2 linked regions of the Homo sapiens genome follow. The protein of the gene in region 1 purifies or fractionates together with the protein of each later gene. This does not show direct contact. Each region holds a gene or a part of one and is shown in the gene's direction. Other genes may lie near its edges.

Region 1 (3,816 bases):
GCATCTTATAGAAGAGGTAGGATGTGGATTGGGCTTTGAGTGATAAGAAGGATTTGGATGAACAGGGAGGAACAGTGAGGGCATTTCCTATGAAAGGTTCAAAATAAAGATTAACAAGGAGCTTGACTTAACTGAGCTGTGTGACTCATGTAGATGAGAAGTGGAAAGTAAGATATAAGTAGGTAGTAGAGGAACTTGAATGCCAAACTAAGGAGTTGACAGATTGGAGTGGAGTATAAAAAGAAACGACAGTATCTGGAGATTGAATGACTGTACTCACTGCTGAAAGTTTTGTTTTGTTTTTTTTCTGAGACAGGGTCTCTGTTACTGAGGCTGGAATGCAGTGGCGTGATCACAGCTCACTGCAGCCTCTCTTTCCTGGGCACAAGAGATCCTCCCACCTTGGCCTCCCAAAGTGCTAGGATTACAGGCATGAGCCACTGCACACAGCCAAAGTATCCTTTTTTTTTTGAGACGGAGTCTCACTCTGTTACCAGGCTGGAATGCAGTGGCGCAGTCTCAGCTCACTGCAACCTCCGTCTCCTGGGTTCAAGTGATTTCTCCTGCCTCAGCCTCCCGAGTAGCTGGGACTACAGGCGCATGCCACCACACCCAGCTAATTTTTGTATTTTTAGTAGAGACGGGGTTTCACTATGTTGGCCAGGATGGTCTTGATCTCTTGACCTCATGATCCGCCCGCCTTAACCTCCTCAAGTGCTGGGATTACAGGTGTGAGCCACCACACCCGGCCTCAATGTATTCATTTTTAAAGAGGTTCTTAGACATTAATATTTCATCCAGTTCTCAGCTGGTCTTGTAAACCAACAGCGGTTATATTTTTATATTTTCAGTAAGTGTTTTTATGAAACAACATTTTTATGCCATTTCTGTTATAGAAAGTAGAGATTAATTGCTTGTCAGTCAACTTTAGTGTTTGTTTTGGCCATGAGGAAAGGTTTGACAGTGTTCTTCCTAGTCTTATCCATTGGCTTCCTATTCTAACACAAGTCTGTTGACCTGTTTACACCTTGGTTGACCAACTGAAAGTTCTGTATTTTTTGAGACGGAGTCTCGCTCTGTCACCCAGGCTGGAGTGCAGTGGTGTGATCTCGGCTCACTGCAACTTCCACCTCACGGGTTCAAGTGATTCTCCTGCCTCAGCCTCCCAAGTAGCTGGGATTACAAATATGTGCCACCATACTCAGCTAATTTTTATATTTTTAGTAGAGACAGGGTTTCGCCGTGTTGGCCAGGCTGGTCTCAAACTCCTAACCTCAGGTGATCTGCCCGCCTCTGCCTCCCAAAGTGCGGGGATTACATGCGTGAGCCACTGCTCCCGGCCAAAAGTTCATATTTTAATAACTATGACTTGTCAATCAGAGTTTAGCAGATTACTTTAAGCAAACAAGTTAAAATGTACAGATTATTTGATACAAACTCTTAGCTATGTTTTACAAACATAATTGTACCTTTCTCTTGTGTTCCATGTACCTTCTTGGAAGAGTACAGAAGAGAGGAAGTAGATGAATTTTCTTGAGATCAGATGTTAGGAGAACAAGGAGAAAGAAGTCTCCCCTAAAATCTTAGAGGAAGATCAGCTCTAAGTCACGTGTTGATAAATAGGAAGAGCACTGAATTAGACCTAAGATGGTCTAATATCATAGAAAGTGGGAAATGCAGCTACAGAGTATTAATTTTATGTCTCTTTGTGTATCCCAGCCAAGCATAGGCAAGCTTTTCTTGAAGACTGGTGGGAAACAAGGTAGGGTATGGTCCTGAATCAGCATTCTTCAGCCTCTAACCTCAGTAGAACCCTTTCTCAGTGGATCAAGAGAAGGCATTACTTTTTTAGAGATGGCCTCTCCCTCTGTCTCCCGGGCTTGAATGCAGTGGTGCCACCATAGCTCACTGTAGCCTCAAACATCTGGGCTCAAGCAATCCACCCACATCAGCCTCCCAAGTAGCTAGGATTACAGGTGTGTGCCACCATGCCCAGCTAATTTTTGAAATTTTTTGTAGAGACAGGGGTCTTGCTATGTTGCCCAGGCTTGTATCAAACTCCTGGCCTCAAGAAATCCTCCCACTTCAGCCTCCCAAAGCACTGGGATTACAGGCTTAAGCCACTGCACCCAACTGGCACTTCTTTCTTTTTTTTTTTCTGGCACTTCTTGAGAGATGGAATCAAGGGGCTGCTGTAACAAAACAGTTCCCTTAAGAGAAGAAAGTATTATCTCAGTTAAAGATGTCTGATTGTAATTGTCTTTCTTCCACCTATTTCTTTCTTACACCATTGAGACCTTGGCCAGTATGATATCTCTTATCCTCAGCTCTGTTCCTATCATTCTTGCCTGTGTCTTGATCTTTCTAATCTGCTAGTCTGTGTTTCAGTTAGGCTCGTCACATGAATAACCATAACATGAGCTTCTTAAAGGTAGACATGAGATCTTAGTCCTATGTGTAAGGCCTAGTCTTCATACCAGCAGTAGCAGTAACAACCCAGGTCAGGTCCAGAGTTCCTTATTTGCCATTTGGAAATACTTTTTCTTTTCTTTCTCTTTTTTTTTTTTTTTTTTCTCGAGACAGGGTCTCGCTCTGTTACCCAGGCTGGAGTGCAGTGGCAGTCATGGCTCACTGCAGCCTCAACCTATCCTCCAGCGTCAGCCTCCTGAGTAGCTGGGATTACAGGCACATGCCACCACACCCAGCTAATTTTGTATCTTTTGTAGAGACAAGGTTTCACCATGTTGGCCAGGCTGGTCTTGAACCCTTGGGCTCAGGCAGTCTACCCACCTTGGCCTCCAGAAGTGCTGGGATTGCAGGCATGAGCCATTAAGCCCTGCTGGCCATTCAGAAATCTAAAAAACTCCTAAAGTTTTGTTTTATTTTTGCTGTAATGGTGCCACAACTCATTAGGGTATAAAATGTAACCTGAACTGAAGCTATGTTTAGTCTTTATTACTTGCTGTAGATATTAATTGGTTTCACTACAGAAATACTCTTTTTGAGTCAGGGTCTCACTCTGTCACCCAGGTTGGAGTACAGTGGTATGATCTTGGCTCACTGCAGCCTCGACCTCCTAGGTTCAAGTGATCCCCCCACCTCAGCCTCATGAGTAGCTGGGACTACAGGTGCATGTCACCATGCCTGGTTTGTTTTTAAAAACTTTTGTTTCTTCTTCTTTTTTTTTTTTTTTTTGAGACGGAGTCTCACTCTGTTGCCCAGGCTAGAGTGCAGTGATGCAGTCTCAGTTCACTGCAACCTCTGCCTCCTAGGTTCAACCGATTCTCCTGCCTCAGCCTCCCAAATAGCTGGGATTACTGGTGCCTGCCACCACGCCCAGCTAATTTTTGTATTTTTAGTAGAGATGGGGGTTCACCATGTTGGCCAGGCTGGTCTTGAACTCCTGACCTCAGGTGATCCGCCTGCCTCGGCCTCCCAAAGTGCTGGGATTACAAGCATGAGCCACCATGCCTGACCCTGTTTCTTTTCTTTTCTTTTTCTTTTTTTTTTTTGAGACAGAGTTTTACGTTGTCACCCAGACTGGAGTGCAGTGGTACAATCTCGGCTCACTGCAACCTTCGCTTCCTGGGTTCAATCGATTCTCATGCCTCAACCACCCAAGTAGCTGGGATTAGAGGCATGCACCAACACCTTGCTAACTAATGTATTTTTAGTAGAGACGGGGTTTTGCCATGTTGGCCAGGATGGTCTTGAACTCCTGACCTCAAGTGATCCACCCACCTCGGCCTCCCAACGTGCTGGGGTTACAGGCATGAGCCACCGTACCTGGACTTTAAAAAGTTTTTGTAGAGATGA
Region 2 (3,816 bases), on another chromosome or scaffold:
CAATTTTGGTATTGTCAGAGTTTGTTTTTCTATCTCATGGTTTTGAAATGATATATGATTGTTTTTGCACTTCTTGATTACTAGTGCTGTTACACCTCTTTTCACATGTTTATTGACCTCTTTCTATTGCTTGTTCAGATCTTTTGCTAGTTTTTCGATTAGTTTGTATTTTCATGGATTTGTAACAATTCTTTATATATTCTGGGTAGCAATTTTCTGTTATATGCATTACAACTATCTTTTCCTAGTCCATGATTTGACTTTTTACTTTTTGTAAATTTCAGTGTAATTAAATTCGTCAATTTTGTGTGGTGTGTGTTTTCCATTCTTAATTTGACAGATACTTACTGAGCATCTACTGTTTCAGGGACTATTTTGGGTACTTGGGATAGGTCATAAACAAAATACACAGTATTTCTAGAGTTCATATTCTAGAAGCTCAAGAAATATTCATAAAAATATTCACATGTATTTTTCCCTGAAAGTGTTTAAGTTTTGCTTTTTCAGTTTTAGATCATGAATTTACCTCGAATTAATCTTTGTATATGATGCGAAGTAAGAAATGTTTTTTTTTCCTATATGAGTAACCAGTTATCCAGGCACCGTTTATTGATTAACACATTGTTTCTTCACTGTTTTGTAGTGACACCTCTGTTAGATATCAAGTTTCTGCATTTGTGTGGGTTTGTTTCTGTGTCTGTTTTGTTTATTGGTACACTTCTCTGTCCTTGCATCTGTATTACACTCTTAATTACTGTGGTTCTATAATAAGCCTTGATATCATAGGTCTTCCTACTTTGTTTTTCTTCAAAATGGTTTGACCTGTTTTTAGTTCCTGCCTTTTTTTTTTTTTTGAGATAGACTCTCACTCTGTAGCCCAAGTTGGAGTGCAGTGGCATAATCTGGGCTCACTGCAACCTCTGCCTCCCAGGCTCAAGCGATTCTCATGCCTCAGCCTCTCCAGTAGCTGGGACTACAGGTGCACACCACCATGCCTGTCTAATTTTTTGTATTTTAGTAGAGACGAGGTTTCACCATGTTGCCCAGGGTGGTCTCGAACTCCTGAGCTCAGGCGATCTGCCCACCTTGGCCTCCCAAAGTGCTGGGATTACAAGTGTGAGCCTCTGCACCCAGCCGGTTCTTGCCTTTTGTATATGCATTTTAGAATCAGCTGAACTACAGTTATATCTTTGGTTATGCGTGGCTTCCTTTTCAGGGCTGCTGTTAGCTGTGTCAGAGTAAAATCCTGCTATATATTGGTGGTGTCTTCTGGTTTTAATAGTTCTTAAGATCCTTGAACGTCCTTGTGCAGCTTCTTTCTTTTTTATATTTTTCTTATTTATGACCTCCCCCTTCCCTCCCTCTTCTCTTTCTTTCCTTTCTTCTTTTCTTTTCTGTTACTGTTTTTGCTTCTATTGTTCTTTTCATGTTCCCATCCTTGTTTTTTGTTTTTTTCTTATGGTCATTCTAAAGAGTACTTTAAAAATATATTTTTATTAAAGTAGTATATGGTGCATGTGTCGAGGGAAGCAAATAATACAGAGGCATATAAAACAACAGGTGCAAGTCCGTCTGATATCAGGTGGCCGAGACTTCCCAGATATTTTATGGGGGCATGTATAAATCTGTGTCTGTTGAAAAAAAGGTCATATACAGACTGTTCTGTAGCTTGCTTTATTTTTTAATTTAATTTTTATTTTATTATTATTATTATTTTTTGAGATGGAGTCTTGCTCTGTCTCCCAGGCTGGAGTGCAGTGGTGCGATCTTAGCTCACTGCAACCTCCGCCTCCCGGGTTCAAGCGATTCTTCTGCCTCAGCCTCCCAAGTAGCTGGGACTGCAGGCGCCCGCCGCCACACCTGGCTAATTTTTGTATTTTTAGGAGAGATGGGGTTTCACCATATTGGCCAGGCTGGTCTCGAACTCCTGACTTTGTGATCCACTTGCCTCGGCCTCCCAAAGTACTGGGATCACAAGCATAGGACACTGCGCCCGGCCAGCTTGCTTTATTTTATTTAGTATTTTAAAAGACATTCTTCTATCGCTAATTTATTCTCATGGCTGCATTGTATGTATATACAGTAATTTAACCAATCCCCCATTGATGGACTTGTAGATGTCTACTTCCTGATCTTGCAGCTTTCAGACACTACTGATCCTCACTGGCAAAGTGGAAGTTGGGTAATTTATTTTCTCTCTCCTTACGCCTTCCCTTTTACTCTTTTAAATTTAGTGGGGTTCTACCAAGAACTTTCCTGTATACTCTTCAGAGCACTGGCATGTAGCTTTCTCAAGAGGGAAGAGTTGGCAGTAAACCTTGGTGTAGTTCTTTTGTCTGGTTCTATCTGTATTTTACTATTAAACTCAAAAGTTCTTTTTTTTTTTTTTTGAGATGGAGTCTTGCTCTGTTGCCCAGGCTGGAGTGCAGTGGTACAGTCTTGGCTCACTGCAGCCTCCACCTCCCCGGTTCAAGTGATTCTCCTGCCTCAGCCTCCCAAGTAGCTGGGATTACAGGTGCCCGCCACCACACCCGGCTAATTTTTGTATTTTTAGTAGAGACGGGGTTTCACCATATTGGCCAGGCTGGTCTTGAACTCCTGACTTAGGTGATCTACACGCCTTGGCCTCCCAAAGTGCTGGGATTACAGGCATGAGCCACCATGCCTGGCCTCTATTAACATACGGTATCCTGGAGGAGAGTGTTTGTCATATAGTGTTATAAGTAGCAGTCTGATTGTAGAGTTGAAAAATGAATGAGTTGGAGAAAATGGAGATGGAGAATTTAAGCAGCTCTTTGCCACACACTTGACTATGAGAGAGCAGGGAATGAAGAGATGCAGATTTTGGGATTTTTCATTTTATTGGTGTTATACTTTTTGAAAGAAGTTAAAGTTGGATCTCTGTGTTACATAATTTTCCTTCTCTTAATCCTCCTAGCCTCCACCAGGCGGTGTGAAGATGCCTAATGTACCCAATACACAACCAGCAATAATGAAACCAACAGAGGAACATCCAGCTTATACACAGATTGCAAAGGTTAGTTCATGTTAGTTGTATAAATTCATATTGGCCATTATAATATCAATAACATTTGCTTTCAGAGCAAAATAAATCTTTATATGGTTACATTTCTGTTGCTTAATTTTTAACTCACTTTCAAGTCTGGATTTGCTGTCTTGTCACCCTTCAAATACTCATTCCTCTTTTTGTCAGCTTATACCATTTGCTTTATTCCATTATTAGGAATTATTGAATTTATGTATCATCTCAGTGGATAAATTTTTATTGCCTTTGGTCCCACTTTTTAATGCACACTACCATTAAGGTAAAAATGATGGAATAATAGATATTATTGGGAGAGCGTTGCAATGGTAAAATAACAGTGTTAGGAGGTAGAAGATGGCAAAAATCTGAGAAGAAAGGAGATTAATAAGATGCCTGATAGCATGTAAGGGCAAATTGAGTTATAAAGAATTTCTTAATCACATCTTTTGACCTCATTCTCCTATAACATTTAAGATATTAGAAAATATTCTTGCATTGGTGGCCTTATATATCATTTAATCTGATTAATAGGAGCCAATTCAGTTGCCCTTTTTTCTATTGTTCATTTTCCTCAACTGTTCCCATTGCCTCTGTTCTTCACTCATTTAGGCATAGAGGTCATCTTAATTTCATTTTCCAGATTACCTAAAGATTGTGACTACTTTTACTAAGAGAAGTTTTCCTCTCCTAATGGACCCAACATTCCCACTGAGAGTTTCTGGAACCCAAAGACCAAATGGACCAAATATCCTCATAATATTTTCTGTAAC

What was found. Proteins that work in one complex are often made in the same cells at the same time.
Region 2: the proteins of SNAP23 (region 1) and SCAMP1 purify together in Homo sapiens (affinity purification with western blotting, with the first as the bait; one study listed by BioGRID). This does not show direct contact.

Annotation. Positions count from the first base shown.
Region 1 is NC_000015.10:42,515,878-42,519,693, forward strand, and holds part of SNAP23 (synaptosomal-associated protein 23), read left to right. Parts: intron 1-3,816. UniProt on the Homo sapiens protein: Essential component of the high affinity receptor for the general membrane fusion machinery and an important regulator of transport vesicle docking and fusion.
Region 2 is NC_000005.10:78,412,582-78,416,397, forward strand, and holds part of SCAMP1 (secretory carrier-associated membrane protein 1), read left to right. Parts: intron 1-2,938; coding exon 2,939-3,037; intron 3,038-3,816. UniProt on the Homo sapiens protein: Functions in post-Golgi recycling pathways. Acts as a recycling carrier to the cell surface.